4 linked regions of the Homo sapiens genome follow. The protein of the gene in region 3 interacts with the protein of the main gene of each other region in a biochemical or structural test. Each region holds a gene or a part of one and is shown on either strand. Other genes may lie near its edges. The genes, in order: ELSPBP1, LMO2, TAL1 and SIN3A.

Region 1 (7,704 bases), on a different chromosome or scaffold from region 3:
TGTTCAATAAATTTGGTAAGTCAATAACTACCTCATAAAATTAATCCATTCCTAAGACAGCCATCTCATTGTTGCAGATTTTTCATTTTGTGATTTTAAACTGCCTCCTATTGCTTTACTCAGGGTGTTCTATCTTTTTTAAAAACCATTTTAACTCTGCATGTTTTCATGTGAGCATATGTGCATGCATATACCTGTATATGTGCACATATGATGTGTGTATATTACACATGCCTGTATACATATATACACATCTATAATGTATACAGGCATGTGCACGTATATGTATATACACATTATGTATGTGCATATACATGTATAATTACTGTTTCTAAAATGTTTTATTGATACACAACAATTGTATATATTTATTGAGGTACGCGTGATTTTTTTTCTTTTCCTTATTTATTTATTTAATAGACATGGTGTCCCACTCTGTTGTCCAGGCTGGTCTCAAATTCCTGGTCTCAAGTGATCCTCCCACCTCAGCCTCCCAAAGTGCTGGGATTACAGGTGTGAGCCACTGATGTGATATTTTGATACATGCAGACAGTAATGATCAAATCAGGGTATTTAGGATATCCATTACTTTCAACATTTATCATTTCTTTGTGTTGGGAATATTGCAACTCTTCTCTTCTAGGTATATACATAATTAAATTGTTTTTAAAGACATAAGTCACACATCTGTGATAAAAACTTAATTGGAAAGAAGTCTCCTATTTACCCCTGGTTCCCACTTCCAGAGGTGATTGATATCAGTGGCTTCTCACATGCCCGCTCAGGAAAACACTCTGTACATGTATGTGCATGGGGAACACAGATGCAGTGTCTTGCTGAGAACTACAAGGCTCTGACCTAGGTTTGCTAGTGTCACCATCTTTTCGTTCCTCTGCACTTACTCCAAAATTGGTAGTCAGCAGCTTCCAGTAAAATCTCAAGGATGGCCTGGGCGCGGTAGCTCAATCCTGTAATCCCAGCACTTAGGGGGGCTGAGGTGTGTGGATCATGAGGTCTGGAGTTCAAGATCAGCCTGGCCAAGATGGTGAAACCCCGTCTCTACTAAAAATACAAAAATTAGCCGGGTGCAGTGGCAGGCGCCTGTAATACCAGCTACTCGGGAGGCTGAGGCAGGAGAATCGCTTGAACCGGGGGACAGAGGTTGCAGTGAGCTTAGATCGTGCCACTACACTCTAGCCTGAGTGACAGAGTGAGACTCCATCTCAAAAAAAAGAAAAAAAATCAATCAATCAATCAATCAATCTCAGGGATTGGGCTAATGAGCCCGGGCATGCGCATTAAGAGACAAAATGGCAGAGTCCGGGGCGCGGTGGCTCACGCCTGTAATCCCAGCACTTTGGGAGGCCGAGGCGGGCGGATCACGAGGTCAGGAGATCGAGACCATCCTGGCTAACACAGTGAAACCCCGTCTTTACTAAAAATACAAAAAAATCAGCCGAGCGTGGTGGTGGGCGCCTGTAGTCCCAGCTACGCGGGAGGCTGAGGCAGGAGAATGGCGTGGACCCGGGAGGCGGAGCTTGCAGTGAGCCGAGATCGCGCCACTGCATTCCAGCCTGGGTGACAGAGCCAGACTCCGTCTCAAAAAAAAAAAAAAAAAAAATGCAGAGTCCAACCTTTTGGGGGACATTTCACTGGAAAGGGAAGAAAGTCTCAGACGAGCTTGTGTACAAGTCCAGTAAACACACCGCGCATGCTCACTTCCCAAGCCTAAAGGAGGCACTGCGCATGCGGGAGGCCCACCCTAAGGGGAAAAATGAAGGGTCCAGCCATGTGGCCCTCCCTTCTGTGCGTCAGAACATGTCACATTGTTTCCCACATCAGCAGCTTTGCCCTCACTGATCCCTGTGCCTGGAATGCTTGTTCCTCACACTGTGTGTGGCTGACTCTAGGTTTTGGTTCAAACATCACCTGCTCAGAGAGGCCTTCCCTGACCACCAAAGGAGACATCTGTCAGGCATGATTGTTTACATTCCCCTGTTTATTATTTTTTTTCATTGCACTTTTCATATTCTGAAATGATTTTGGTTTTGGTTACTGTGGTAGAATACACATAAGATTATGATTTTAACTATTTTAAAGTGCACAATTTAGTGGCGACAAGCACATTCACAATGTTGCACCATCATCACCATTATCTATTTCCAGGAACTTGTCACCACCCCATACTGAAAGCCTCATTTCTTTTTTTTTTTTTTTTTTTGAGAAAGAGTCTCGCTCTGCCACCCAGGCTGGAATGCAGTGGTGTGATCTCGGCTCACAGCAACCTCCACTTCCTGGCTTCAAACAATTCTGGTGCCTTAGCCTATGGAATAGTTGGGATTACAGGCATGTGTCACCACGCCTGGCTAATTTTTGTATTTTTAGTAGAGATGGGGTTCAACATGTTGGCCAGGCTGGTCTTGAACTCCTGGCCTCAAGTGATCCACCCACCTCGGCCTCCCAAAGTGCTGGGATTACAGGCGTGAGCCACCACCCTGGTCAGAAAACCTCATTTGTATTTTGTCTTTCCCACCCTAGTAAAATATTAGCCTCATGCAAGAAGGAATTTCACCTGTCCAGTCTACCGACAACTCCACATAGTAGGAGGAACACAACAAATATTTATCACATACGTGATTTTTTTTTTTTTTTTAGGAAATGGGGTCTCGCTCTGTCATTCAGGCTGGAGTGCAGTGGTGCAATCATAGCTCACTGCAGCCTCAATATCCTGGGCTCAAGTGATCCTTCCCCCTCAGCCTCCTGAGTAGCTGGGACTACAGGTGTGCACCATCTTGCTCAACTAATTTTTAATATTTTGTAGAGAAGGAGGGGGTCTCACTACGTTGCACAAGCTGGTCTTGAACTCCTGAACACAAGTGATCCTCCCACCTTGGCCTCCCAAAGTGCTGGGATTACAGGCCTGAGCCCGCACGCCCAGCCTATGTTTACCATGATTATTTGTTGAGCACTCAGCATGTGCCAAGAACTCTGCTTACATTGTATCATTTCATTCTTCCCCCACCCCGGCCGCCCCCCAAAAATCCTGCCCCCTCCCCCATCCCCCATAGATGGAGTCTCACTCTGCCCAGGCTGTAATGCAGTGAGCCAAGACTGGCACGATCTTGGCTCAGTGCAACCTCTGCCTCCTGGGTTCAAGCAATTCTCCTGCCTCAGTCTCCTGAGTAGCTGGGATTACAAGTGCGTGCCACCACGCCCAGCTAATTTTTGTATTTTTAGTAGAGACGTGGTTTCACTATGTTGGTCAAGCTGGTCTCTAACTCATGACCTTGTGATTCGCCCTCCTCGGCCTCCCAAAGTGCCGGGATTACATTCATTTCATTATTAAACAGTCCTACGGGATAGATTTCAGTTGTCTCATATATAGAAAAGAAAGCTGAGAGTCAAATACATTCCATAACACTCTGAAGGTCACACGGATGAGCAGAAATTCGTATACAGGCTACCCTTTTCCGAAGCCACAACCACTTACGTATTTCTCCATTGTGGAGATGAGGACTCCGAGCTGTGCGTGTGTCCATGGAGCCACACAGCTGGCTTGAGAGGGAGCCTAAGGTTAGACACCTTTGCTCCGTACCTGTTCCAGGATGGCTGATTCAAATGGGACAGAGATAATGAAAATGATAACGATTAATATTTACAAAGCACGTTTTATGTGGCAGGCAGGGTTTTCAGCCCCCTGTGTGTGCATTAGTTTTCTGCAGTGGCTGTAACAAATCCCCACACACCTAACCGACTTGACACACATTTGTTCTCTTACAGTTCTGTGAGTCAGTCTCACTGGGGCTAAGATCAGGGTACCAGCCAGGCTGCATTCCTTCTGGAGGCTGTAGGGAAGAATCCGCTTCCTGGCTTCTTCCAGCTTCTAAAGGTCGCCTGCATTCTTTGGCTCGTGGCCTCTTCCTGGCATAACTCTAACCTCTGCTTTCTGTTGTCACACCTGGTTTTCTGACTCTCCTGCCTCTCTCTCTGTTTTTTTTTTTTTTGACACAGAGTCTCGCTCTGTTGACAGGCTGGAGTGTGGTGGTGCAATCTTGGCTCACTGCAACCTCTAACTCCCTGGTTCAAGAGATTCTCCTGCCTCAGCCTCCTGAGTAGCTGGGATTACAGCTGAGTAGCTGGGATTACACCACACCCAGCTAATTTTTTTTTTTTTTGTAGTAGAGACGTGGTTTCACCATGTTGGCCAGCATGGTCTCAATCTCCTGACCTCATGATCCTTGTGATCCACCCGCCTCGGCATCCCACCACCTCTCTTTTATAAGGGCCCTTGTGATGACATTGGGTCCATCTGGGGAATCCCGGATCATCTTCCCATCTCAAGATCCTTAGCTTTATGACATCTGCAAAGTCTTCCACACTCCTTTTTTTGAGACAGGGTCTGGCTCTGTCACCCAGGCTGGATCATAGCTCACTGCAGCCTCAAAACCCTGGGTGCAAGTGATCCTCCTGCCTCAGCCTCTTGAGTAGACAGGACTACAGGCATGTGCCACCATGCTAGTTTTCTTTCTTTTTTTTTTTAAGATTGTTTGTAGATAGGGGTCTCACTGTGTTACCTAGGCTGATCTCGACCTCCTGGGCTCAACCAGTCCTCCCACCTCAGCCTCTCGAATAGCTAGGACTGCAGGCATGTGCCACCATGCTGGCTGTTTTTTTTTAATTTTAAGATTTTTTGTAGATACGAGGTCTCACTATGTTGCCCAGGCTGATCTCAAACTCCTGGGCTTGAGTGATCCTCCTGCGTCAGCTTCCTGAAGTGCTGGGATGACAATTATGAGTTACCATGACTGGCCCGCAAAATCCACTGTGCCATGCAACCTAGCATATTCGTGGACTCTAGGAATTAGGACGTGGACAGATTTGTGTTGGGTGGGTATTATTCTACCCACCAAGCGTCTATGAACGACACTAACATTCTGTAGCAGCAACAGTGATCACCATCCCTTCCACTGTGCGGATGAGGACTGAGACCCAGGAAACTCAGTACTTTGTTGGGGTCACAAAGGTAGTAAGAGGCAAAGCATGGAAACCCAGGTGGTTGGGCTCCAGGGCAGGCTCTTTCTGGCATTATAACCTTCTGCCTGTCTGGATCTTAGCATCTAAGCCAAAAATTATTCATTTGAATCTTGAGGAGAAGGGTCAAAATGAAAGCTTGAGGTTAATGAACCAATTAAGGTGTAGGAATTGGGGTTTTGGGCCAGGCAGGAATATAAGCATGACACTGCAGGTAGTCAAGGGTTTAGAGGAGGTGGCAAAATTTGTCTCTCCCCCATCTCCATAAATAGTAATTAAAACATCTCGCTTGGGCCGGGCGCAGTGGCTCATGCCTGTAATCCCAGCACTTTGGGAGGCCCAGGTAAGCAGATCACTTGGGGTCAGGAGTTCAAAACCAACCTGGCCAACACGGTGAAACCGTGTCTCTACTAAAAAGACAAAAAAATAGCTGAGCGTGATGGCTCGTGCCTGTAATCCCAGTGACTCAGGAGGCCGAGGCAAGAGAATTGCTTGAACCGGGGAGGCGGAGGTTGCAGTGAGCTAAGATCGTGCCACTGCACTCCAGCTTGGGGTGCAGAGCAAGACTTCATCTCAAAAACAAACAAAAATTCTGGCTTGTATGCTGTCTTCATAAATAGTAATGAAAATATCTGGCTTGTATGCCCCCTCTGACATTTACACAGTGCTTTCCAGCATCTGCTGCATGTATAAGATCCCAAGGTGGAGTTTATTCTCCCTCATTTGATGATTGGAAAAACTATCCCCATATTTTCCTGTGGTTTGACTCCATAGCCACAGCAACCCTTTTTCCGACCAGCCAAGAAACAGCAGCGGTGGCAGGATGCTGGTCCCAACCACCCCGGGGCTCAGGACAGAGGGTTCTCCAAGCATCTGAACCTGCCAGTGCCCAAAGCATAACTTGGTCCTCACCTGGATGTTCCAGACGAGACATGGGTGTCTGGCTATTAGGGCTTGTTTTACAGTTGAATAATTATTTTGAATGGCCCCTAAAATATTTTCTATGAATATCCATAACTTGGTCTGTGCAGAGTCATAAACCTTCCAGACCATCAGTTGCTACCAATTCTTCGAATTTGCACAGAACTCTTTATTGCACAAAGAAGCAAGCCATGCAAATAGCTGGGGTCAAGGGATCATCCCAGGCAAAGAGAAGAGCGAGTGCAAAGGCCTTGAGGTGGCTTCTGCAGGAAACAACTAAAAGGCAGATCGAGGGAGGGGAAGGAAGATAAGAAATGAGTTTGAGGGAAGGCACAGTATGGACTAGGGATTGTATTCTAAAGGTGATGGAGGATTTTGAATGAATAAATGCCACCCCTGCTCTTTTTTTTTTTTTTTTTGATGGAGTCTTGCTCTGTCACCCAGGCTGGAGTGCAGTGGCACGATCTCGGCTCACTGCAACCTCCGCCTCCTGGGTTCAAGTGATTCTCCTTCCTCAGCCTCCTGAGTAGCTGGGACTACAGGCACCTGCTACCACGCCCAGCTAATTTTTTTTTTTTTTGTATTTTTAGTAGAGATGGAGTTTCACCATGTTGGCCAGGCTGGTCTCGAACACCTGACCTCAGACGATCTGCCCACCTCATCCTCCCAAAGTGCTGGAATTATAGGCATGAGCTACCGTGTCCGGCCCACTCCTCCTCACTTTAACCCCTCCCGTGGCTTCTGGTTGCTTCTATTCTATTCTATTCTATTCTATTCTATTCTATTCTATTCTATTCTATTCTATTCTATTCTATTCTATTCTTTTGAGACAGTCTTCCTCTGTTGCCCAGGCTGGAGTGCAGTGGTATGATCTCGGCTCACAGCAACCTCTGCCTCCTGGGTTCAAGCGATTTTCCTGGCTCAGCCTCCCGAGTAGCTGGAATTACAGGCACGCACCATCATGTGGAGGGAATTTTTGTACTTTTAGTAGAGATGAGGTTTTACCATGTTGACCAGGCTGGTCATGAACTCCTGACCTCAGATGATCTGCCCGCCTCGGCCTCCCAAGGTGCTGGGATTACAGGCATGAGCCACCACACCTGGCCTTCTGGTTGCATTTAGAATCTGAGGGAGGCTCTACAGGGTCCGGTCCCATCCATCTCACCATGCATCTCTGTGGCCTTGCTCCTCCTCACTTGTTGTAGAGACGAGGTGTCACTGTGTGGCCCAGGCTGGTCTCAAACTCCTAAGCTTAAGCCATCCTCCTGCTCAGCCTCCCAAAACACTGGGATTATAGGCATGAGCCACTGTGCCCAGCCTGGGCCTTAGCCATGCGGGTCCCACTTGCTCCTTGAGCACATCTAGCTTTTTCCATCTCAGGCAGTTTCCACGTCGGCTTCTCCTGCCTGGATGTATCCCCCACCCCCATACCTCCAGCTCCTCTCACGTCTCCCTCCTCCATCTGTTCCTCCAGGTGTCAGCTTACCTGTCATTTCTCAGAGCACCCTCCCCTCACCTCTCAATCAAAAGTGACCTTGTCCTAGTTGTTCCTGAGACTCGTCCACAGCAATGATCACAGCGAAGAGTTGTATTTGTTTCTGGTTTCTTCGCTTCATATCTGTCTCCTTGGTTGACTCTCAGCCCCACGAAGGCAGGGCCTATGCCTGCTTTACCCACTGCTGCATACTCATCGTGTAGCCCTGGCCCCACATCTTTTAAATGCTCAATAAATACTCATTCCTGAGTGGATGC
Region 2 (7,704 bases), on a different chromosome or scaffold from region 3:
GTGTCTTGTTTATTTTTAAATTCTTGGTGCCCAGTACAGTGCCTGGTACACAGGAGATGCTCAAATGGCTACCCCTAGCCTCTGAGGTCCCACTGCACTCAAAGAAGAGCAGAGCTCCAAATGACCTTGTCATCTTTCCCCTATTACCCAAACCTGTTCAATTTCCCCATTTCTGTTTATTAAAGATCCATTTTCTCAGTTACAAAGATCCAAGACTCCTCGAGGGTATTCTACCCTAACGGAAATAGGACAGGCTTTGTAGTCAGACTTGAACCCTGGCTTTGGCGACTACTAGCTGTCCTGCCTGGAGAAGTTGCGTACCCTTCCTGAGCCTCAGTTTTCCCTTTCATTGAATCAGGATGATAATACACACTTCATTCATCCACTCAGCAAGTGTTTACTGGGCGCCTCATACACAGCAGGAACTGTTCTAGGCACTGCGGATACGTAGACGTCAACAAAACAAACATTGCTCTTGCCTGAAAGGGGCTTACAAACTTGAGAGGGGGAGACAGACACCAATCAAATAAGCAAGTACACATATAGTATGCCAGATGGCAATATGTGCTAGGGAGAAAAATAACACAGAGTGAGGGAAAATGGAATGCGCTGGCCCGGGTTATTAGTGTCTTACTCAGGTGATGAAGGAAGACCTTTCTAATAAGAAGAACTCACATCTGGGGAAGAATGTTCCCGGAAGAAGGAGAAGAGCAAAGGCCCTAAAGCAAGAGTTTGAAGAATGACAAGGGGTCCTGTGTGGATGAAGCAGAGGGAGGGAAGGAGGAAGGGAGTGTAAGAGAAGGGGACACAGAGATGGCTAGAGCCAGATATGCAGGGCCTTATAGGACTTTGGCTTTTTACTCTGGGCAAGAAGGAAACCTTGGGAGAGCTTCAAGCAGAGGAGCGAAATGATCTGATGCAGGTTATGAAAGGATCCCCCTGGCAGTGGCACAGAGTATGGCCCCTGACCTGTGTGGATGGGGCAGAAGCATAAGGCTGGCCATTTGCATCCCACAAATGACCTCAGTGTGAGGGATGAGCGAGATCATATACGAATGCGCTTGCGTGAGTATGCATAGAGCAAGTGCTCAAGCCATGGCAGCTTCTATCAATGGCCCTGCAGCTGCCTGGCTATAGCTCCCTGGTCTCCTGCAGACAAGTCTTGGCCAGTCACGTGAGTGCCTCTGTCATTGCCCACTCAGTCATTCCCCCTGCCCCCACCTCCTTTCTTCAACCCTTCACTGGTGGTTAAGCTCCTAGCACAGCAGCCTCACCTCCAGCCTCTCCCCACCCCAACCCAACCCAAATGCAACTCCACTCACATCCTTCCCCTGTTCAAGAGTCTTCCATGGACTAGTGGCTCATTAAATCCACATTCTTGGCTAGGTGCAGTGGCTCACACCTGTAATCCCATCACTTTGGGAGGCCAAGGCGGGCAGATGGCTTGAGCCCAGGAGTTTGAGATCAGCCTGAGCAACATGGCAAAACCCCATCTCTACAAAAAGCAAACAAACAAACAAACAAAAAACAAAACAAAAGAACAAAACAAAAATTAGCCAAGCGTGGTGGCACACACAGCTGCTTGGGAGGTTGAGGTGGGAGGATCACCTGAACTCAGAAGGTCAAGGCTGCAGTGAACCACAGTATCACCACTGCACTCCAGCCTGAGCAACAGAGCAAGACCCTGTCTCAAAAAAAAAAAAAAAAAAAAAATCCACATTCCTGGAGACTTGCAGCTAAGGCCTTCCACAATAAGATGCTGCATTTACGTTTCCCACCCATAATCAACTGCTATCCCAAACATATTGAATATCTGTGGAGAAGTATGGGTGGGTGCAATATGTCACTCCTAGCAGAATCACTGAGGAAACTGACCACACTCATGATGGAAAATTGACGGTAATGAGTCCTTCCCTCAGGTTCCCCAACCCCACAATATGCCCTAACCATGGTGGACATGTATTCCTGTCTGTCACTGGCTCACTTCTCCCACCAGGCTACCGCAAACTCCACAATGATGTATATTCTCTTAAAGCTACAAAATGGCTTGTGGTTTCCAAATCAGTTTTCCTTACTGCTCTTATCTCCCTTGATACTTGCCCCTATGGGCCCCTCATCCATAATAAAATGCCCTCATTTTACACTTACTAGTTCTGACAAGAGTCCCAGGTTCCAAGTCATGGATTCCCATGTGGGATTGCTCCTCTGATCCTTCATTCCTATATCTTTTTTCAATCTATCCACAATTCACAAGGCATCGGTGTCAGACCAATGGCAAATAATAAGTGGGACCTGCTGGCTATGGATGGAAGAGCGAAGTCCCTGACAACATGTTTCTACCAGCCTGGAAATGAGGCTCTCCCATCCCCTAACACATCTACCAGTTGTGATGGATTTAAAGGCTGGCTAATGTTAAGCTTGTTCCACAGGGGATAGAATATTGGCCCCTGGACTGACACCTACCACCATGTGGATCTTGGAGCAAGACAAAGGAGCCCCCCAACATTCGTGTTCTGAAATAACAATGCCTGAGGCTGTCTATTCCCCACCACGGATGCCAAAGCACAGACAGCCACTCACAGCTGTGGGATACAGATGCCCCTGTCATTATAAAAGGCCAGCCCTAAATGCTATTACAGAGTCTAAAAACTGAAAATGTTATTGTGAAACCTTTAGGTTTTTTATAGCTGGCTATGCCTGATATAGCTGGTGGCCTGGGACACAGTTTCCCTACTCAGCGCTGGGACACCTCGGCAATACTGCACCCACAGTGTCATCCCTATCTGTTTGGAATGTACAATTCTTCTACAACACCATGGGCCAGGAATATCACATCATCCTGAGAAGCCATCAGGACAAACAAAAAGGAATGTGGTCCTGTATGTTTAGTCCCACCTCCCCTACAAACTACTTTTATCATAGAAATGATGCCCAATTGTCAGCCCAGCGCATGTGGTGTCCTCCAGCACCCCTTCTAAATGTGCCCTCAAGCACCCCTTCTGCTTTGTGCATCTTTGTGACACCCTTCCAGATGTCAGCCTATATCTCCATGACCCAAATCTGACTTAAGAGTTGTGGCCGGGCATGGTGGCTCATGCCTGTAATCCCAGCACTTTGGGAGGCCAAGGCAGGTGGATCACCTGAAGTCAGGAGTTTGAGACGAGCCTGGCCAACATGGTGAAACCCCGTCTCTACTAAAAATACAAAAAAATTAGCCAAGCTTGGTGGTGGGCACCTGCAATCCCAGCTACTTGGGAGGCTGAGGCAGGAGAATTGCTTGAACCTGGGAGGCAGAGGCTGCAATGAGCCAAGATTGTGCCATTGCACTCCAGCCTAGGTGACAAGAGCGAAACTCTGGCTCAAAAAAAAAAAAGGTGTACCAGCCCAGGGAGACAATGGCCACATTGCAGGTGATGACCACAGCCCAGCCAACCACTGCATCCTGGAGGCTGCCCACCAGTTACCCACATCATCTACCAAGGGACCCCCTTGCTGGAGCACAAACAGCTTCCCTTGGGGGATCCCTCAATCAGCATTTGTCACATACCTGAAAAGGGTGGCCACCACACAGGCCACCAAAGTTATAACTCTCTCCTCTCACTTCCTCCCCATTGGGCACAATAAACCTCATTGCCATTGTGGCTGGAACTTCCCTTCCTGGGCCTCCCAAAGCAATTCTACTGCCTAAGGCTATCTCCGGGCTAACTTGTATGTACACAGAGATAAAGCCACATCCCAGTGGCTGGACCTCATGCAATGTTGGGCCTCCTATCTGCCCCCATGAGCAGGCCACTCCCTTATTTGCACCACAAAACCACCAACACCAAACACTTCTGGTCTAGGCTCCTAGGTCTTGCCCTGTCCTATGTTGGCTCAGATGTTATCCAGTCTGGTCCCCGGCTCATGAGTCCAGATCATACATCTATCCAAATGTATAAATACATGCCTATGCTTGTATCTTCCTAGGCCCACACAGCACAACTAGTGTCATGGCCCACCCCAGATATTAAAGGAACACAAGAGATTGGAAGCCCCAGAGGGAACCTGCTTCACCTGTTCCACTCCTAGATAACTTCTTCCTGACGTCCCAAATACCTAAACTCACCTGCACACTGCTAAGTCTGACAACCCCCTTCACATTTTTCTGACTGTTCTGCAATTTAACCCTGCTGGTCACAGTCCCCAGTCAGAGGTGATGGGCAGTCTTCCTACCCATTGTCCTGGGTATAAGCATGACTTGGGGCCAGAAGAGTGGGACTAAGGTCTTACAATATGATCACACCAGGAAAACTAGCAGATACTTCAGAGAAAGATCCGAGGTCCTATCAGCCCACGTAACACAAAAAACAGCAGCACTGGAAGCTTTCACTGAAGGGCAAAAACCCCTAACTGCCAGGGTGGCAGATAAGAGACTAGCTCCAGATGATATGCCAGCTTCCCAGAAGGAGTATATGCTCTCAGAGGGCATAGTGTATCCTGCTGGACGTGGATAAATATTGCAAGGCAAAGTAATCCAAATAGCCCAATGGATGTACCACCAAACAGAAACCAAATTCTACATGTGGTACTCTGAACTCCCTAGGACTTGGATGTCCCCTGTAGCCTGGGGTGACCTTGTTTTAGGAGCCCTCCTGCCCACAAGTAGACTTACATACTGCACTGGCTATGTAAAATTGGTACAGCCTATATACAAGTATATTAGCTCTTTGGATGGTGAACCAAATGTTAGGGAGTGAATTTTGAAGAAATTGAGTTGAGTGCAAAAAGTTGCTCCCAGCAAAATGTCATTTGTCCAAATAGTTAACACCCACTGGGGCAGAAACCATCAGGGCACCCCACCCCTCACCACCCACTCAGCCCCACTCACCTCTGCAGCACCTAGTAATCATATGCAAGAAAACTCACCCTTACTCTTTTTGATTGACCACCCCCAGCCTGACCCCCAATGGAGCAGATCACTCAAAATTAATCTTCCCCCACTACCTCCTCTCGGCATTATTCAACAGGTGGGCCCCTGTCCTATATCTACGTAGGTCCCCAGCACCAGGCTCTTTCTCCTCCCCAGAAGTCAGGGAGTCCTCTTCTCAGTGGGGCCCTCAACCAGTGGCTTCCCTCGCTGCCTATGCCTGCATAAGTAATACACCTTTGAATTGCCTGTGATCACCGGGTCAGGTGTGGTGCGTTTTGGCATCCAAGGCTTTTAAATGGGAGAGAACAGCAGATCTGGTTCCTTTCACTGGAATATTGTTATGGTCCAATTCTGCAACCAGCTGACTTCATTACTACCTGTGAACTGCACCTCCAGCTCCTCCAACTGACCCCATACCCAGACCCTTACTTGGGCTGTTTCCTACCAGACACACCTGCTCTGTTAAGAAAACCATTATTGAAATCACCGGCTGTTAATTCCTACTCAGTCCTTAGTAGCCCTGTGAGCTGGAGCAAGTTCTGTAGGCTTTCTGTGACTCAGTTTCATCACCCATAAAATTATGATTACAATACTTACTTCATTAGGGTGTTGCAAGGGCCTAAAAAACACTCTATGTATAGCTCAAAGTACAAGCCTGACAACAAAGGAAGTTTCCAGATAATCGCTCATCAAGGGGCAACTCGATTTTCTGCTTCCTCCAGAAAGCCTTCCATGCTGATGTCCATCCACTCTGATCTCTCCCTAATCCAATCTGATTGCAGTTTTGATCAGCACCTCACTGTTGACCATGGATTTCTTCTCCATTACAAATGTGTTCATTTTGACTTCCAAGTAAGAGATAAAGGTCTTGGAAAGAAGTGATTGCATTTTACCTGGCTCTCCTACTGACTTTCTGTGTCATCTTCCTCTTAATTTTGGGGAGACTGAGTTTCTTTCTCTGGGATGGCAAATACATGGCCTATGTGCCAACACTTTCCCATCCTGAAACCTCAGGACACACACCAGTGTTCTCATCTTCTCTCCAGAACCTGGGTCCAGACTCACAATTCTTCTTAACACAATACTTTGGACAGTGTCTACTAACTTATCTAATAAATATGTTTTGAGTACTTCGTAGGTACCATCCCCCTTGGTCAGTTTCTAGAAGTTAAAACGTTGGACATCTTGTATCTGCACTTATGGAACTCATCCCTTAGTGGAGAAGAAAGACAATATGCAAATACACAAATAAGAAAATATCAAGTAGTGACAAATATAATGATGAAAATTAAATAACGGTGTGTTAGTGCCTGGGGAGGAGGCTATTTTTTAGATCAGGTATCCAGGGAAAGGCCTTCTGAGGTTTCTCCCTTGATCTGGGAGATTGGGTGTGGGCCTAAGAATATGTATTCCTAACATGCAAACGTAGGAAATTTGGGAAACACTGGCATAGTGAATGAGGTGAGGGCATAGTCAGAAGACCTAGGTCTAAATTCCGTCTCCTACATTTATGCAGCTGTATGACCCTGGGAAAGTTATTGAAATTTCTCTCTCACTTTCCTCCTCTGTAAAATTGGAATAATATTACTGATCTCAGGAGGTTTCTTATCAGGATTGAATAAGATCAAGTATTTAAAATGCCTGGCACATAATAAGTGCTCAATAAAAGGTAGGCATTGTTTGCCACAATTAGGTCTATCTATTTATAACCGTAATCTTTTGTTTGAATCACTCAAGAGACAAATCCAATAAATGCCGCTAGGTAATACGGTGTCTGCGTGTTGGCTTTTGCCTCATGAAGCTCTTCCTCTTGAAAAATAAATTTTCAAAAGACATTCCTGTGAGCAAGAATGCCCGAGTCTAAGGAACAAGGGTCATCCAGTTCTCTAGTTTAGGCATGTTTGAGATTTGAAAGGGCTTTGGCCTAATTTCCTCTCCTATCAAATGGGCACCAGGCTACCTGCCCTTTTTCACTCATGGGGGATTTCTGAGACTCAGAGGGATAAGAGATTTGCAAAGCGTGAGACACAAACAGTTGCAGATACAGACAGAACACTTGCTTTCTCAGACCGGCAGGTGCATACAATGGCAAGGCCACCTGATACACCAGTCCTGTTCATTTGGAAAAGGGACAACTCCTTCACATTCACAAGCTGGGCTGGTAAGTGAAGAATAAGAAGAAAAAAAAAAGAAGTCGGCAGGAAGCAGCCTCTTCAACCAGCAAAGAAACCGTTAGAATCCATCCCTGCGCCCTGATGCCAAAGTTCCGCCTGCCCCACCCGTCACGCTATCAAGGACACCCGCCTGCTATCAGAAAGCCCTGGGGGTCTTTTTCCCTAGTTTATCAAGGACCTGTGGAAACATTTCTCTAACTGAAGATAAGAATTTTTTTTCTCTCTCTTTCTCCTTTCTACTTCTAGCTGTCTAAACCAGAGGGTTCCTCTCATTTTCTTTCAGTAACAACTGCTCTGAAAAGAAGATATTTTTCAACCTGAACTTGCAGTAGCTAGTGGAGAGGCAGGTAAGGTGGGTTTCATTAATTCATTTGTTCATTCATTCATTTCTTCCATTATTGTATGCTTCCTGCATGCCAGAAACTGGGCTAAGAAGGCTCTTGGATTTAATCCTGGGCAGAATGAGCTTGAGGTCTTTGGGGAAGCCAGACTGCACTTAACAATTACAAAATGCGGAATTGTAAATTGTGATCTGAACTTGGAGTGAGAGCATACATATTTGAGCTGAGAGACAGTGTGTATAATAATTTTTTAGATTTGGCTCTTGCCCTCCAAGTGGAC
Region 3 (8,582 bases):
CCAGCACTTTGGAAGGCCAAGGCGGGCGGATCACCTGAAGTCAGGAGTTCGAGACCAGCCTGGCCAACATGGTAAAACCCTGTCTCTACTAAAAATATAAGTAATTAGCTGGGCGTGGTGATGCATGCCTGTAGTCCCAGCTTCTTGGGAGGCTGAGGCACAAGAATTGCTTGAACTCATGAGGCAGAGGTTGTGGTGAGCCAAAATTGTGCCATTGCACTCCAGCCTGGGTGACAGAGGGAGACTCTGTCTCAAAAAAAAAAAAAAAAAAAAATTAGCTGGGTGTGGCGGCATGCACCTGTAGTCCCAGCTACTCAGGAGGCTGAGGCAGGAGAATTGCTTGAACCCAGGAGGCAGAGGTTGCAGTGAGCCGAGATCACACCATTGTATTCCAGCCTGGGAGACAGAGTGAAACTCTGTCTCAAAAAAAAAAAAAAGCACGGTGTTTTCTTAACACAATTTTACTTTGGCCTTTGCTACAGATGGGGGTTGTAAACTAGAGAAGTGGTTCTCAAATTTTGTGTGTGTGTCAGAAATCATCAGGAAGGCTTGTGAAAACAAATTGCTGGGCCTCACCCTCAGAGTAGTAGTAGTAGGCCTGGGGTGAGGCCTGAGAATTTGCTTTTCTAACAGGTTCCTCGGTGATGCTGACCATCCACTTTGAGAGCCACTGAGAGTGAAGTTCCTTCCATCCCTGAGAATTCTGACAGCAGCGTTGGGGTTTGGAAGCACAGACGTGACTCCCAAGCTCGGAATTCTTGAGGCCTGCTTACTGATGGGGTAGGGGTTCTTCCAGGGCAAGAGACAGAGGCAAAAATGGAGAGAATAGTCCTTTGAAAGTGGAAGAGGGAAATAATGACATTTCCTCAAATTGAAATTTTCCTCATTAAAAATAATCCTTATATAAACAGTATTATGTATGGAAAATGAGCACCTCTCTTCTGCAAATAAGGAAAGTGAACCTCAGAGATTAAGTAATTTGCCTGGTATCATACAGCTGGCAACTAGGGGAGCAGGGATAGGAGCTCAGGTCTGCCTGACCATTGTGCTTGCTTTGCTGCTTTCGAAGCACTGTGGCCTGAAGCCAGACTGCCCTAGGTGTGAATTTTGCCTCCACCACTTACCTGCTGGGTGTTCTCTGCAAGTTGCTCAACCTCTCTGTGCTACCTACAAAATGGAGTAGTCCCTACTTCATTAGGTTCTTGCAAGGATTAACTGAATTAATACTTACAAAGTGCCTAGGACAGTACTTGTCACACAGTAACTGCAGTGTAGATTTGTTAAAAATAAACTCGGCTGCTCATCAGAGTGCATGCATGGCATCTTTCCGGAGAAGAAGCTCGGGGGAGAAGCTCAGAGATAGTCCAGTACTCAGAGAGGGCAGGCAGAAACACTTGAAAAATGGTAAGAGGCTTGGCTTTGGGGTTTAGGGAGAACCCAACCTTTGGTGGTGGGGAACAACGGCCTCAGGGCCAGAGCCTAGCTAGCCTGTTCTTGTCCCCTGCTCTTGCTGCCCCAGTTCCAGACTCCAGACTTACCAGTCTGGGTCTCAACCTCCCCTCCCTCCTCGCCACCCCCACCCCAGGCGCTCCGGGTTTCCTGCCCGACTGGGGCCTCCGTTTGGGGCGGGTGGAGGAGGGGTGGCATTTCCTGGCTGGCCCCGGCCTGTCACTCTCTCGTGGACGCTCGGACAACTCGCTGACCGACAGGCACCAGATGCTATTTCAGGCAGCGCCCCGCTTAGCGCACAGCTTCCGTTTTTCCACTGACCATCGGAAACAGGGGAGGGGGCAGATGTAGACGTCATGAGACCCCAGCCCCTGGCAGGGCTTTGGTGGATGAGGTCGGGAGTGGCTGCCTGACTGTCAGAATCTGGAGCTTGGCAGAGAACAAATGTGTGGAATTGGAGGGTTGGTGAACGTCACCTCCTCGCTCCACAGACAGAGGCCTGGGCACACCCTCTGCCACAGGGCTGAGAAACGCCTTTCCACCTGTCCATATTCCTTCACCACAGGAAAGGACACTTTCCTTGGAGGTGCTGGCTGGGGACATTTAATGCCCTGTAAAATAATCCAACAGTCTGCAGGTGTCTCAAAGGCATCTAAACTTAAGGAGTTCAAAACCAAATATATAAGCCCTCCCCATGTCCCCTCAGCCTCCAGGTTCCCCATCTCCAGGAATAACCACCACTAGCTCTGCAGGACAGCCAGAAACCCAGGGGTTTTCCTGGATTCCTTCCTCTCCCTCATCCCCCCAAACCCAATTCTTTTTTTGTTTGTTTGTTTGAGACAGAGTCTCGCTCTGTCGCCAGGCTGGAGTGCAGTGTCGCGATCTCGGCTCACTGCAACCTCTGCCTCCTGGGTTCAGGTGATTCTCCTGCCTCAGCCTCCTGAGTAGCTGAGACTACAGGCGTGCGCTGCCACACCCAGCTAATTTTTGTATTTTTAGTGGAGACAGGGTTTCATCATGTTGGCCAGGATGGTCTCGATCTCTTGACCTCGTGACCCGCCTGCCTGGGCCTCCCAAAGTGCTGGGATTAGAGGCATGAGCCACCATGCCTGGCCCAAATCCAATTATTATAAACCCAGTTTTATACCCCAAATACATGTCATCTTCACTTGCCTCTTGTCATCTCTTCTGCCAGCACAGTGGTCCAAGCTCTAATCCGCTTCCCCTAACCACTGCATTGGCTCCACAACTGGCCTCCCAGAGTCCTTCCCCCTCCACACTTCATCCAAAGAACTTTCTAGAAATGCAAATCTTATTCTATACAAGGTACCACCCCCACCTTCAAACCAAACAAACAAAAAAATGTCAAAAAATCTTTTAACTTGTCCACAAGCATGCTCCAGCCATACTGGACACTTTTCTATTCTTTTCACGAACCTACCACCCTTCTGTTCTAGCCCTTGGTCCAGCTGTTTCCTCAGCCCACCTGGAAGGTTCTGGATACTGATGCTTCTCCCCACCCCCCTTCTTCGCACCCCCAAATTTCACTCTTAGATCTCAGTCCAGGCCTCATTTTCTCAGAGAAGCAGTCCCCACCTGGGCTCTCCCATATGGGAATGGCTAGCCTGTTTTTACAGTGGCTCAGAGACATGAAATCACTTCTCTAAGGGTCCCACAGCCCAGGAATGGCAGAGTTGTGTTTCAGACTCAGAATTATATGACTCTCATTTTCTAATAAGTGATGGAGCCAAGCAAAGGCCTTATGGTAGGGGGGAACTAGACTTTTTCTTAGGATGTGGGATTCTGTGAGAGTTATCTGTATCCCCATGACAGCCTGACTTCCTTCAGAGAGCACAGGAGGAACAGAGGGGACAGGCGGCACTGAATTAACTGTATCTTCTCAGAGGGTCAACCTGATGACCAAGGAGAAGCCAGATCCCAGACTGGGGCCATGCTCTCTGCTCAGTCTTTGACTGGGACTCAGTTTGTTACCAGAGTAGGGGTTTTCCCCCAGTTCTCAGGCTCCAAAAAAAGCTCAAAAGCAGAGACACTAGAAGGACAAATCAGCCTGGCATGGAAAGTAGAGTTGTGGACTGGGAATTGGACACCAAAGTTTGGGTCCTGGCTTTTCCTTTGGGTTACTGTAAGTTTTGGCTAAGTCACATCTCTCTGTGTCTTAATTTCTTTCTCTATGATGATAACCAGAACTCCCATGCAAGTGCATATGATGTTTTCCTGGGCTGTGGACTGAGTGACGTTCCATACATTATTATCCTCACCACCACCTTTTAAAGGTCATATAAGTTAGTTCTCATAACTTTGTGACGTCGACATTATCTCCCCATTTTACAAATGAGAAAACTGAGGTTCAGAGATCAGTGACTAAAATTCGAACATGTGTTCTTTCCACTCCACCATGAAAGAATGAACCCAGAGACCCTCCGTGGGCTGAGCGCATCATCCAGCTGGCACTGAACTCAGATTTCTACCCCACAGTAAAGACCCTGGTCTCTGCAATGAGTTGAGCCCAGGTCCCTTTCCCTGGCTAGGTTTTGGCTGCCCCTCTTCATCAGCTGAGCCGCAGAGAAGACTCCGTGTCAAATTTCCTTCCAAGGCAGACTCCACCAAGCACTAGCTATGTATCATTCGAAAAGTTACTTTGACTTTCTGTGCCTCAGTTTTCTCTTCTGTAAATTAAGGATCCAGCTTCTCAGGACTGTTTGTGAAGAGTAGATTAGTATTTGCAGAATGCCTAGAATAGTGTTACAGTCGCTAGATTAAACTTTTTTTTTTTTTTTAAATACCATGTGGGGAGCAGTGTTCCTGGGCTCTGGGCTCAGCCTGAAACCTAGCAGAATAGGCATTTTATGTCCCTATTGACAGGGGTTCTGCCAGGCCGCCGTAGAGCCCATGGATTTGAGTTACCGGCTCTATTTTAGAAGGGGGTGAAGAGGTAGGGAAGGGCTGGGGAGCTTTCTGGGATAGGGAGACTGCCCATTGAAATCTGGGTGTCTGGGACACTGGAGGAAGAATAAGAAAGAAGCCCTGGGAGGTGACGATTTTGGTATCATGGTGGTCTTCAGAGGTAGGGACAGAGTGCTGGGGTGAGAGTCGCTGAAGAAAGGTGTCTGAAAGGTTAAGGGACTGAGGTTGTGGGAAGCTGGGGTTCCTGAGAGGCCTTGGGATTAGAGATGGGGGCTGGATCTGCTGGGTCCTAGACAGCGCGTCCAACGCTCCCCGCAGCGCGTTCCGGAGCCGGTCCTAGCGCCGCTCAACCAGTCCCCACTCCCTCCGGTGAAATTGCCAAATTAAAATGAATCATTTGGCCCATAATGGCCGAGGCGCTTATCGGGGGCGGGCGGACCCGCGGCAGTGCCTTATCTCTGCGGCGCACACGGCCCCGGCGCGCCTCGGCCCATGCTAACGAGGCCTGGAACGTGAGTGGGATTACAGCGCGTCGGTGGAGGGGCCGGGCGGGCGCGGGGCGGGCGGGGGAGCGGGGGCCGCGGGAGGGGCCGGGCCGCCGCCGCTCAGGACCGGGCCTCAAAATGGCCACACGCGTACCCCCGTAGCGGAAAAACGTGAGCATTCTGGCCTTTTTCTAGGGGAAAAGCAACCCGCGGCCTCCCACCGAATTCTTCATCAATTTCCTCCTCTTTTTCCCCACGTCCGCAAAAGAGGTCTTCGCTCCCTTTCCCTCGGTTCCTTTCGATGGCCGGGGGGGGCGGTGGGGGGGCATTTTCCACGGACGCCCCCGCCCCGGCTGCCGCCGCCCCTCCCGCCTCGGAGACTCTCTTCCTTCCTTCCCCCTTTTCCTTACGCAATATACAGAAATGCGCGAGGCTGTGGTTGGTTTTCATTTCTTCTTCGTGGTTGTGTGCATGCGGTGGGATTGTGAGAGTGCGTTCATGAGAACTGTGGGCGGCGTTGGCTGCTTCTAAGTGTGGTCTTCTTGGCGACAGGCTCTGTGTCCGAGTGTGGTGTGCCTGCGCGGTTGGGGTGTGTAGATGTGGACCCTTCGAGGCCCTTCTGCGTTTTCTTCGTTGCGTACGATTGTGCTCCGTTGGTGTTCTCAGCAGGGATCTGATTCTGTGTGTGGGGGTGTGTGGCCCCTGCGACTGTGTTTGGGTGGTGTCGTCGTTATGTCGGGCGTGTGTGATCCCGACTGTGCTGGATTGTGTGTCCGTGAGCCGCTGCGTTTGACTGATTTCGTTGTGTCCTGTTGGGCAGTGTGCGGGGCTGACCAAGTCGGCTTCTGGGGCAGTGCTAGGTGGTGTTTGTTTGCTGCCCTTCTGTGGGGCTGGACCCTGTGTGGTCCTGTCCGCACTGAGTTGTATGCCTGTGTGCCTGTGTCCTTTAGAGGTGCGTTTGCAAATCGCTGGGGGCGGGAGTGGGGGGAGGGCGAGCGAGAGATCGAGGCGCTGGTGGGGGCGGCGGCATGGGGGCGGGGAGCGGGATTTCACATTTTATTCCAAATTATGATGTATTCGGGAGCCAGTTGTTGGCTTGGGTGGGCGGACAGCGCCCGGTCGGCGGCTGCTCTGCCCGGAGGCCCGCCTGTGCCTAGGTGTTTGAGGGGTTCGTTGGTGAGTGGGAGGCTCCTCCAGGCTTGAAGCTGAGCAGCGCTCGCCGAGGCCGGCGCCTTCGAGCCGGTAGCTGCGGGCTTCGGTTCCCGCTGCACTCCGGCTTCATCCATTTCTGGTCAGTTTCGTGGGTGCGGCCGCCGGGCTCCAAGGGAGAGGCCCCGAAAGGACAATGGGCACATTCACCAGGCCTCGAGCCTCGGGTGGGGACATTCGGGATCACCTCCTGGGAAGATTTTCCCGCCCCCTCTTCGGGTGAGCGACGTTGCCGCTTGGGTCTGATACCCGTCGCATCCGAGACCGAGGCCGAATCCGGGCTCTGGGAGGGACCGGGTTAGTGGGGCCCTAGCTCGGGTTGAAAGAATTTTGTTTTGTCAATTATTGTAATTGCTAATGCCATCACCATCACAATCGTCATCATTAACATCTATTTTAATTAAAATAATCATCCCAGAGCGCAGCAGTTTGTCCCTTTTGGCTCCTTTGGCGGGAGAACAAAGCAGCGGGTTTTTTTCCGCTACAGCCGTTTTCTAAGTTGCTGGGTTTGAGGTAGGAAGAGAAAATGGAGAGAGGCACGGACACAGAGACTTGGTCATAAGGCAAACATTAACCCCCAGCGAACACGCAACATTAACCCCCCGCGAACACGCCGGGAATGGATGGATTCCCCTCTTCTTTCCTCCCCTCCCCTCTTTTGGATTAGAAGAGGAGAAAGAAAATCTTCCGCATTGTATTGCAATCCAGGGAAGAATTATTCCTATATGTCCACCAAAGCCGCGGCAAATAGAAGGAGGCCTTCGCAGTTAATCCAAGACTTCGATGTGTGATCATAAGCCTGACGATTTAGGCAAAACAAATTAAACAAAATCCACTAGGAAAAAATAAAAGCAAGCTCAATCCTGCTACATCCTTGAAAGTAGTGTCGGGTTTGTTTTTACCTCCTTTCCTTTTACCTTGTTTATTGCTGTAACAAATCATTAGAATTCTCCCTTACTCTGTCTAAACCCCGAAAAATCGAAAATCATTTCGTAGGGGTGGTGGAGGGGAAGGTGGGGGACTTTTCCCCTTTGTTTCTTTCTTTCCCCCTTTGTTGGTCTTTATTTCCTTTTCTTTTTCTGTCTCTCTCTTCCTCTCTCTTTCTTCTTTCTCTTAATCAGTAGGGAGACGAGAAAGGACCTGAACAGATCAGATATCTCTCTCCAAGCCCCCTTCCCAACTCCATTTCTGTAGGAAAGTACAGCCCCTGGAATTGGGTTCTGGTTTCGCTTTGGGCTGGAGGTGGGTGGATGGGGGTCAGAGAGAGAATGAGGTGGGGGGGACTTCAAGGTTCTGTCCCACCGACCAGAGTCTGAAGACTATTCGCCTTTCCCAACACGGACCTCCGCCCATCCAGGCCCGGGACTATCCCTTCGCGGTGTAGCGGCAGCCGGAGACCTGGCTGAGGAGGCAACCGCGTAGACACCTCCCTGCTTAGAAAACAAACACTGAACCAGACCGATCCCAGTTGGAGGGTTCGAAAATGTTCCAGACAGCCTGTCGGGAGGGGTTGTTGTTGCTGTTGGACTAAATAGCTATTCCTGATTGGTCATGTATAGGGTTTTTTAAGGCGGGTGGGGGGAGGAGGGGGTAGAGGAAAGGCTCCAAACACCTGCAGGTTGGGGGCGGAAAGCTGTTTGCGATTCCCTGGACTGGTTGGTCGGGGACAGGAGGTAATTCCCAGCCATTGACCCCCATTTCTCTCTCTCCCTCCCTCTTGCCCTGCCTCTTTCTCTCCACCCCTATCTTTCCTGGAAACTCGCTTTGGGCGCGGCAGATCGCCCAGGACCACACCGCAGCGTAACTGCAGGCCTCTCAGCGAAAAAGGGGGAAAGCAAAGACCCGGGTGTGCATCCTCTTCCTCGGCTTCCGCCCCTTTCCGGCGGAGTGGAGATCCTATTCAGAGGGGCCGGTCTCTCTAAATATGCCCCAGGTGAGTTTTCAGGGGAATGGTGCCGGTGGAAACGGTGTCTAGGAAGGCCTTGTGTTCCGGCCTGGGGTGAGGAAGGCTCAGGACAGAGGAGAGCCCATTCTCAGATTGGGGGTGGGGGGAGGGGAGGACCAGCCAGAGCTTGGAATCGGGATCTGACTGCTGTAGCTGCCTCTGTGGCATTCAGCGGCTTTTTCCCTTTTCCACCCAGGGTAAAACCAGCTAGTTGGACTTAGTCGTCCAGGCCTTTCCCATTGGTCCCGGTTCTGTGGACGTTTCCCAAGGCCGGTAACTTTGGGGCGGCTGTATCCGGGTGGTACAGACTGTGCCTGGAGCTCCCGCAGGAGGAAGGCGGCAGCCTTCCTGGCTAGTGCAGTCCCAGCTCGAGTGGGCCCTGATCCCAGGCCTGAGGCCTAGGGTGGGGAGGCAGGAACACCCCTCTTCTCCGGTAGAGGCGAGGATGGTGGTGCTGTTCCCTGGTGGGTTTGGTACTTGTGCAGGCTTGGGGCTTCTCCAGGGTGTTGTGCTGGTGTGGGCCCAGAAGAGAGACCAGAGGCTGGGTCTAAGGGCCTGAGGCTGTTTTC
Region 4 (7,704 bases), on a different chromosome or scaffold from region 3:
TCTTATCTTGACCAGGTGAAGCTGCAGTTTGGTAGTCAGCCTCAGGTCTACAATGATTTCCTTGACATCATGAAGGAATTTAAATCTCAGAGGTAAAAGATGTGTGATTGTACTCAAGCTTTGTATCTGGCATATTGATTTTGGAAGGAAGAGGATATAGTTTATTTACTGGAAGATAAAGGATGCTCCTTTTTGCAGCTGAATTTTCAAAATCATGCCTTTATTTTATGCATACCTTTATTGATGGAAATTATGGCCACTAGACTTTTTTATCCCTATTGGTAAATTTTCCTTAACTAAATTTTTTCCAGTGTTTTGTCTCAATCAGGGAAGTAGCACTGGTAGTGATTTAGGCTACTTGGTTTCTGAATTGGTTTAGATACCCTTATATTCTGGCATGGTTCACTGTTGTAAGAGTGTAACTCATCTGAACAATGTAGATGTGTGCTGAAATGATGTATACTGGTATATCAAAGAGTGAATCTTGTTTGGGATATGTAGCTTTATATATATCATCTGAGTATCTGCTTGGTAGAATTATTACAATGAACATATATTCTGTTAAAAATTTTGACCATTCCAAAAATTAGCCGGGCATGGTGGCGGGTGCCTGTAATCCCAGCTACTTGGGAGGCTGAGGCAGGAGAATTGCTTGAACCCAGGAGGCGGAGGCTGCAGTGTGCCGAGATTGTGCTACTGCACTCCAGCCTGGGCAACAGAATGAGACTCTGTCTCAAAAAAAAAAAAAACAAATTGTGGCCAAGTATCTTTGAGTCTAAAACTAAATGGCTTTGGAATTTCAGAGTTCGTGTGTTAATTTTAAAATGCGTAGATGATCTGTTTTCCTGTTTAGAGAAAACCTAGTAGAAAGTGAAATTTTGAGTGAGGTGGCTCATGCCTGTAATCCCAGCACTTTGGGAGGCCAAGGTGGGCGGATCACCTGAGGTCAGGAGTTCGAGACCAGCCTGGCCAACATGGTGAAACCCCACCTGTCCTAAAAATACAAAAATTAGCCGGGTATGGTGGCGCATGCCTGTAATCCCAGCTACTTGGGAGGCTGAGGCAGGAGAATCACTTGAACTCGGGAGGTGGAGGTTGCAGTGAGCCAAGACCCCAAGATTGCACCATTGCAGTCCAGCCTGGGCAACAGAGTGAGACTCCGTCTCAAAAGAAAAAAAAACATGAAATTTTTTCTTAACAGGGTGTTTGTTAAGCTTACAGTTTATCACTTTTCTTTTTGTTTTTTATCAGCATCGACACCCCAGGAGTGATTAGTCGTGTGTCCCAGCTATTCAAAGGCCACCCCGATCTGATAATGGGATTCAACACCTTCTTGCCCCCTGGCTACAAAATTGAGGTGCAAACCAATGACATGGTGAATGTGACAACTCCTGGCCAGGTTCATCAGATTCCCACCCATGGCATCCAGCCACAGCCTCAACCACCACCCCAACATCCTTCCCAGCCTTCAGCCCAGTCAGCCCCAGCTCCTGCCCAGCCAGCTCCTCAGCCCCCACCTGCCAAAGTCAGCAAGGTGAGCACTTGGAAAATATTGCATCAATATGAATGCATCCCTAGAGAGCACCTTCCTTTGATGTTTCCCCTTTATATAAGACTTAGATACTGAGAAACAAAGTTACAAAGATTTCGTCATAGAAAAATGCTGTATGAAAACTTCACTATGACATGGTTCACATTTACACATCACTTACTTAGGTATCTATTTAAATCAACACAGCAACAACTTTCAAGGTCTTTCTTTTTACAGTTTCTGCTTATAAAACCATGAACATCCCAACAGGTGGTGACTTTGTGTAGTAGTAGTTGACAGCACAGATAGAAACCATCGTCTTATCCTGGTCAAATTGTGCTGCTGCCCACATGGTTATTTTATGAAAGTTATTTCACTAACTAGATTATATCAAGCTAAGTAGAAGATCTAATGAATAGTGATAGTGATGGTGATGAAGATGGGGTGTTCTTGGTCTAGAACCACACTGTCTGACACAGTAGCCACTAGCCACATAGGACTATTTAAATTAAATTCAGTTTTTCATTTGCACTAGCTTTCAAGTGCTCAGTAACCTCATGTGGCTGGTGGCTATGTATAAGACAGTGCAAATAAAGGACATTTCCATCATCTCAGTTCTACAGGACAGAGTTGGCGTAGAAGACTTTTTTATGTGGAGCTACTGCAACAGTTGTCTTGTTGTTGACATCAAAAGGCTATGTAGAATGAGATTTTTTCTATGTGTACTTGTTGAGCTACTAAGCTAAAACATTGCATATGAAAAATTCTTCCCTGTAATTGGAGATGGCTCCAGTTTTAAGGTTTTATTTAGAAAATGTGAGACTGAAATATTTGTATCAGCATGTTTGAACCGCCTACAACTCCCACTGCTGCCCAGTATGATTTGTGTTGGACTAAAATGACCTGGCCTGAGTGAGTAAATAAAGGATATACGTTGACACCTTGTTTCTCTTTAGTTTGAACTTTCCTTGTATCAACTCATCTATGCATCTGAAGAGAATAAAGATTTCTTTTCTTTCTAGCCCTCCCAACTGCAAGCACATACTCCGGCCAGTCAGCAGACTCCCCCACTTCCACCGTATGCATCCCCACGTTCTCCGCCGGTCCAGCCTCACACACCAGTGACAATCTCGTTGGGAACGGCCCCATCCTTGCAGAACAATCAACCTGTGGAGTTTAATCATGCCATCAACTATGTTAATAAGATCAAGAACAGATTTCAGGGCCAACCAGACATCTACAAAGCATTCCTGGAGATTTTGCACACATATCAGGTAAGGAGTGCCCATTCAGCCTGTCTTAACCAGGTCACCCTCTTAGGGCATCTAGTCCAATAACAAGTAACCATTATTGTGTCCATTAATTCATACTGGAAATTAACCAGTTAGAAACTATCATGCATGTTTTTAAAGCCAGTTTGTTTGTTTGTTTGTTTTTCGAGACGGAGTCTTGCACTGTCACCCAGGCTGGAGTGTAGTGGCACGATCTCAGCTCACTGCAGTCTCCGCCTCCCGGGCTCAAGTGATACTCCTGCCTTAGCCTCCCTAGTAGCTGGGATTACAGGCTCCGCCCACCACGCCCAGCTAATTTTTTGTATTGTTAGTAGAAATGGGATTTCACTATGTTGGCTAGGCTGGTCTCGAACTCCTGACCTTGTGATCTGCCCACCTTGGCCTCCCAAAGTGCTGGGATTGCAGGCGTGAGCCACCGCCCCCATGCTATAAAGCCAGTTTTATTTGCCTGACTTGATTGCCCTGCAACATTCAGTCAGGATTTTTTTTTTTTTTTTTGAGACAGAGTTTTGCTCTTTTTGCCTAGGCTGGAGTGCAATAGTGCAGTGTCGGCTCACTGCAGCCTCTACCTCCCGGGTTCAAGTGATTTCTTGTATTTTTAGTAGAGACGGGGTTTCAACATGTTGGCCAGGCTGGTCTCAGGTGATCCACCCGCCATGGCCTCCCAAAGTGCTGGGATTGCAGGCATGAGCCACCGTGCCCGGCCTCAGTCAGGATTGTTAGTCACTGTCCCATGAAATGAAACTCAGTTTTATCTGGGACAGTTAGATGGTGATTTATATAGTCTAGTTAATGTACAGTAGGAGGAGGAGAAATTTCTAAGGTTTTGTCAGTTGGTAGTGGTCCCCTGGGCATTAATATTTATTGCCCTAGGCCGGGCATGGTGTCTCACGCCTGTAATCCCAGTACTTTGGGAGGCCGAGACAAGTGCACTCCAGCCTGAGCAACAAGAGTGAAACTCCGTCTCAAAAATATTTACTACCCTAGTTTTGAAAGGAATTGTCATCCACCATCTTCAACTTTTTTTTTTTCTCAACTTGAAAGTCTGTGGTCAGAACGGGTGCTAAGAACATAGACTTTCTTCTTACATGCAGCCTAAATAGATAACAGTGATTCCAGAAAGCGTGCAAAGATGAGTGACTCAAAACAGTAGCCCAAATGATCTCTTTTCATTTGCAATTCCTCAGAAAGAGCAGAGAAATGCCAAGGAAGCTGGAGGAAACTACACTCCAGCATTGACAGAGCAGGAGGTGTATGCCCAGGTTGCTCGTCTCTTTAAAAACCAGGAAGATTTGTTGTCAGAGTTTGGACAATTCCTACCAGATGCCAACAGCTCCGTGGTATGTTTTTTTAATAAGAATTACACTATTTACTATTATTATCTTAGATGAGTTGGAAAACTGTGCTCAGAAGGGGACTTTTCCTAGATGATATTTGTTTGCTTTGATAAGAGCATTAATCTCATTCATGTGTCTTAATCAGCTTTTAAGCAAAACAACTGCTGAGAAGGTTGATTCTGTGAGAAATGATCATGGAGGCACTGTCAAGAAGCCCCAACTGAACAACAAGCCGCAGAGGCCCAGCCAGAATGGCTGCCAGATCCGCAGACATCCTACAGGAACCACCCCTCCAGTTAAGGTGAGAATGGGCAGCAGCTGCTCATTTTGACACTCACAAGTATTTCTAATGGAGAGGTACTCTAGAGGTGGTCATGTGTTTTGTTGTTGTTGTTTTTTTTTGTTTTTTTGAGACCGAGTCTCGCTCTGTCGCCCAAGCTGGAGTGCAGTGGCACGATCTCGGCTCACTGCAACCTCTGCCTCCCGGGTTCAAGCGATTCTCCTGTCTCGCCCTCCCGAGTAGCTGGGACTACAGGCGCATGCCACCATACCGGGCTGATTTTTTTTTTTTTTTAGTGGAGACGGGGTTTCACCGTGTTAGCCAGGATGGTCTCGATCTCCTGACCTCATGATCTGCCCGCCTCGGCCTCCCAAAGTGCTGGGATTACCTGTGCCCGGCAGTCATGTGTTCTTAAGTGTGTTAACGGTTGGGTCCTAGATATTTGGAGGAAGTTAGTATTGTGTCACAGAAACTCAGTGCAGAGTTTATCTGGCTTTGCAAAAGAGTATTAGAATAACATTGATTGCTTGGATTACTGTACTTTTCTGAGTTCTTTATTATCTCTCCTTTGCAATGAGCTGTCATTTCTTTAATGTTTTGGTTGCTACTAAGAATTTCCAATACTTGAAATTTTTTTCCCTTCTTTTTTTTTTGAGATGGAGTCTTGCTCTGTCGCCCAGGCTGGAGTGCAGTGGTGTGATCTCAGCTCACTACAACCTCTGCCTCCCGGGTTCAAGCAATTATCCTGCCGCAGCCTCCTGAGTAACTGGGACTACAGGCGTGTGCCACCACGCCCAGCTAATTTTTGCATTTTTAGTAGAGATGGGGTTTCGCCATGTTGGCCAGGCTGGTCTTGAACTCCTGACCTCAGGTGATCCACCCACCTCGGCCTCCCAAAGTGCTGGAATTACAGGCGTGAGCCACCGCGCCTGGCCCCTTCTTCTTTGATGCTTTAAATCTGCCTTGTGTTAAGAAAGAACATTCTTGAGCTTGAGAATTATTTCAGAAATAAGTGGTCTCTGAGGTCCTCTTGTGAGTAGAGTGCATGTGTTTTTTGAGATCTCTGGTCTAGAACCCTGTCCTGCTCAAAGTTCTTTGTTGGGTTACCAGATCTTATGTGTATCATCTTAATCTCCAAGGCAGGACCTTTGGGCTGTAGCAGAGGGAAGTCTTAAACTCCTCTTAGTAATCCATTACATGATGTTTTTTGTTATAGTTAACACTGATGGTCTGCCTGCAGAAAACTTAGCTTGCTCCCTTCTTTGATGTAACACAGCTATGATAGGGAGAGGGCTAGTTGTATGTATTGAATGTTTAATTCTTCAGTGAATTTCAAAGCAGTATGTAATATAGAAGAGACAGATATGTCTGCAGAATTAAATAATGACAAAAGTTTGGGAATTTCTAATAGTAAGAGGTGGCTGATGAATAGTGATTGACTGACTACAAGGTCTGACGTACTAGGTGTTACTGACACTTTTGAAGTATCCTTTTCATTAGTGTTTGTCATGGTTTCTTCTTTTGAAATCTTTTGAAATCAAGTTGAACATAATAATGGTTTCTATTTCTTCATTTCAATAAAGAGAATTAGTTATATGGGTAGCAAGAATCAGCTCAGTAGATACACTCCATGCTTGGATTTACGTCCGCCCACTCTTGATTACCTACAGGTGGCAAGAATATAGTGGGGGCTTAAAATTCTCCGCCTACTTTCTCCATAGGCAGTGTAAGCAGAGGCTGCGGCTCTTAAGAAAGTATACTCTGAGATAGCCAAGGTAAATGTGCTACTTCTCACAAAGTTTGTGCATTTCTTCATAGAGAGTAAGTGGTGGATTTTAAAAGTAACTTCTTGCCTGACAGGATTATATCATGGCCTGTTGGTTCCCTTTAGAAGAACAATATTAAATTAGTCTGAGTGGATATTGCTGGCGTGCCTTTTTTTTTTTTTTTTTTTTTTTTTTTTTGAGATGGAGTCTCACTCTGTTGCCCAGGCTGGAGTGCAGTGGCGTGATCTCGGCTCACTGCAGCCTCCACCTCCTGGGTTCAAGCGATTCTTCTGTCTCAGCCTCCTGAGTAGCTGGGACCATAGGCGCACACTACCACGCCCAGCTAATTTTTTTGTATTTTTAGTAGAGACGGGGTTTCACCATGTTGGCCAGGATGGTCTCAATCTCTTGACCTCATGATCTGCCCACCTTGGCCTCCCAAAGTGCTGGGATTACAGGCATGAGTCACCATGCCCAGCAAATTATGCTTTTTAAGTAAATTTTTAATTGAAATATTATTCAGGGTTAAAGATTGATTTCTGTCAATTTGTGAGCTCTTTTTACAAACAGCCTTTTCTCCCTCAGCTGGTAGGAGAACAAAACAGTGGCATTAGATTCTACATGAAGTTACTTTGGGCCCCTAGAAAAAGTAAGGATATTCTAAAAGTTTGTCACAGTAATGTCATGATCATTTCTGGAGAAAATATTTTGGGGGTAGAATGATCTTTGAACCTCTGTTGTAGAAAGAAACTTAATAGGCAAACTGAAATAGAAAATATGAGTTGAAATCTTAGAGGGTATGGAGTGAGTTGGTTAGAGTTCTCTCATTTGTTTCAAATTATTAATCAGCAGTGGTTTCAGTGATGAAACCATTGAATACAGACAAAAATAAAATTCAGAGAAAACCACTCGTTGAATCTCACATGTTTGTATCTTTCTTTTGCAGAAGAAACCCAAACTGCTCAATCTGAAGGATTCTTCTATGGCAGATGCCAGCAAACATGGTGGTGGAACAGAATCGTTATTTTTTGATAAGGTGAGTAATGGATGAGTTAGATTTGATAGTGCCTGTTAATGCCAAAAGAAAATCATCTTATCCCCCTGGAAGGTTTCGTTTTAAAGGTGTCAGGCTAATTAGGACTTTCTGTTTTTTAACATAGTTTCCCAGTTGTGAGTCCTTTGAGTCTGCTAGTACTATTAGCATAGCTAGAAAAATGGTAGCATTGTTTGCTTTGGTTTTATGAAGCAGTTTGGGGCAGAAGACAGATTTTTAGAAAATGTATTATGTTTCTCTTGAAAGATGTTTGGAGCTCCCATTGTAGATATCCAGGTCTGTGTGGCAGGCAGTACCAGTGCCTGTACCAATTTTTGAGGATTTAAGATGACTTGTAATCTTTTTTTTTTTGAGACGGAGTCTCGCTGTCGCCCAGGCTGGAGTGCAGTGGCGCAATCTCGGCTCACTGCAGGCTCCGCCTCCTGGGGTTCACGCCATTCTCCT

The links.
Region 1: the proteins of TAL1 (region 3) and ELSPBP1 form a complex in vitro, tested with the Homo sapiens proteins (one study listed by BioGRID).
Region 2: the proteins of TAL1 (region 3) and LMO2 form a complex in vitro, tested with the Homo sapiens proteins (2 studies listed by BioGRID).
Region 4: the proteins of TAL1 (region 3) and SIN3A form a complex in vitro, tested with the Homo sapiens proteins (2 studies listed by BioGRID).

Annotation. Positions count from the first base shown.
Region 1 is NC_000019.10:47,997,186-48,004,889, forward strand, and holds part of ELSPBP1 (epididymal sperm-binding protein 1 precursor), read left to right. Parts: intron 1-7,704.
Region 2 is NC_000011.10:33,881,550-33,889,253, reverse strand, and holds part of LMO2 (rhombotin-2), read left to right. Parts: intron 1-6,977; exon of another isoform or gene 6,978-7,070; intron 7,071-7,314; exon of another isoform or gene 7,315-7,366; 5' UTR 7,367-7,430; exon of another isoform or gene 7,431-7,435; intron 7,436-7,704. UniProt on the Homo sapiens protein: Acts with TAL1/SCL to regulate red blood cell development. Also acts with LDB1 to maintain erythroid precursors in an immature state.
Region 3 is NC_000001.11:47,228,615-47,237,196, reverse strand, and holds the start of TAL1 (T-cell acute lymphocytic leukemia protein 1), read left to right. Parts: upstream 1-4,971; 5' UTR 4,972-5,030; intron 5,031-5,307; exon of another isoform or gene 5,308-5,349; intron 5,350-5,481; exon of another isoform or gene 5,482-5,540; intron 5,541-5,934; exon of another isoform or gene 5,935-6,150; intron 6,151-6,155; exon of another isoform or gene 6,156-6,287; intron 6,288-7,425; exon of another isoform or gene 7,426-7,543; intron 7,544-7,845; 5' UTR 7,846-8,001; intron 8,002-8,582. UniProt on the Homo sapiens protein: Implicated in the genesis of hemopoietic malignancies. It may play an important role in hemopoietic differentiation. Serves as a positive regulator of erythroid differentiation.
Region 4 is NC_000015.10:75,406,593-75,414,296, reverse strand, and holds part of SIN3A (paired amphipathic helix protein Sin3a), read left to right. Parts: coding exon 1-92; intron 93-1,251; coding exon 1,252-1,534; intron 1,535-2,553; coding exon 2,554-2,805; intron 2,806-4,010; coding exon 4,011-4,163; intron 4,164-4,305; coding exon 4,306-4,461; intron 4,462-7,152; coding exon 7,153-7,242; intron 7,243-7,704. UniProt on the Homo sapiens protein: Acts as a transcriptional repressor. Corepressor for REST. Interacts with MXI1 to repress MYC responsive genes and antagonize MYC oncogenic activities. Also interacts with MXD1-MAX heterodimers to repress transcription by tethering SIN3A to DNA.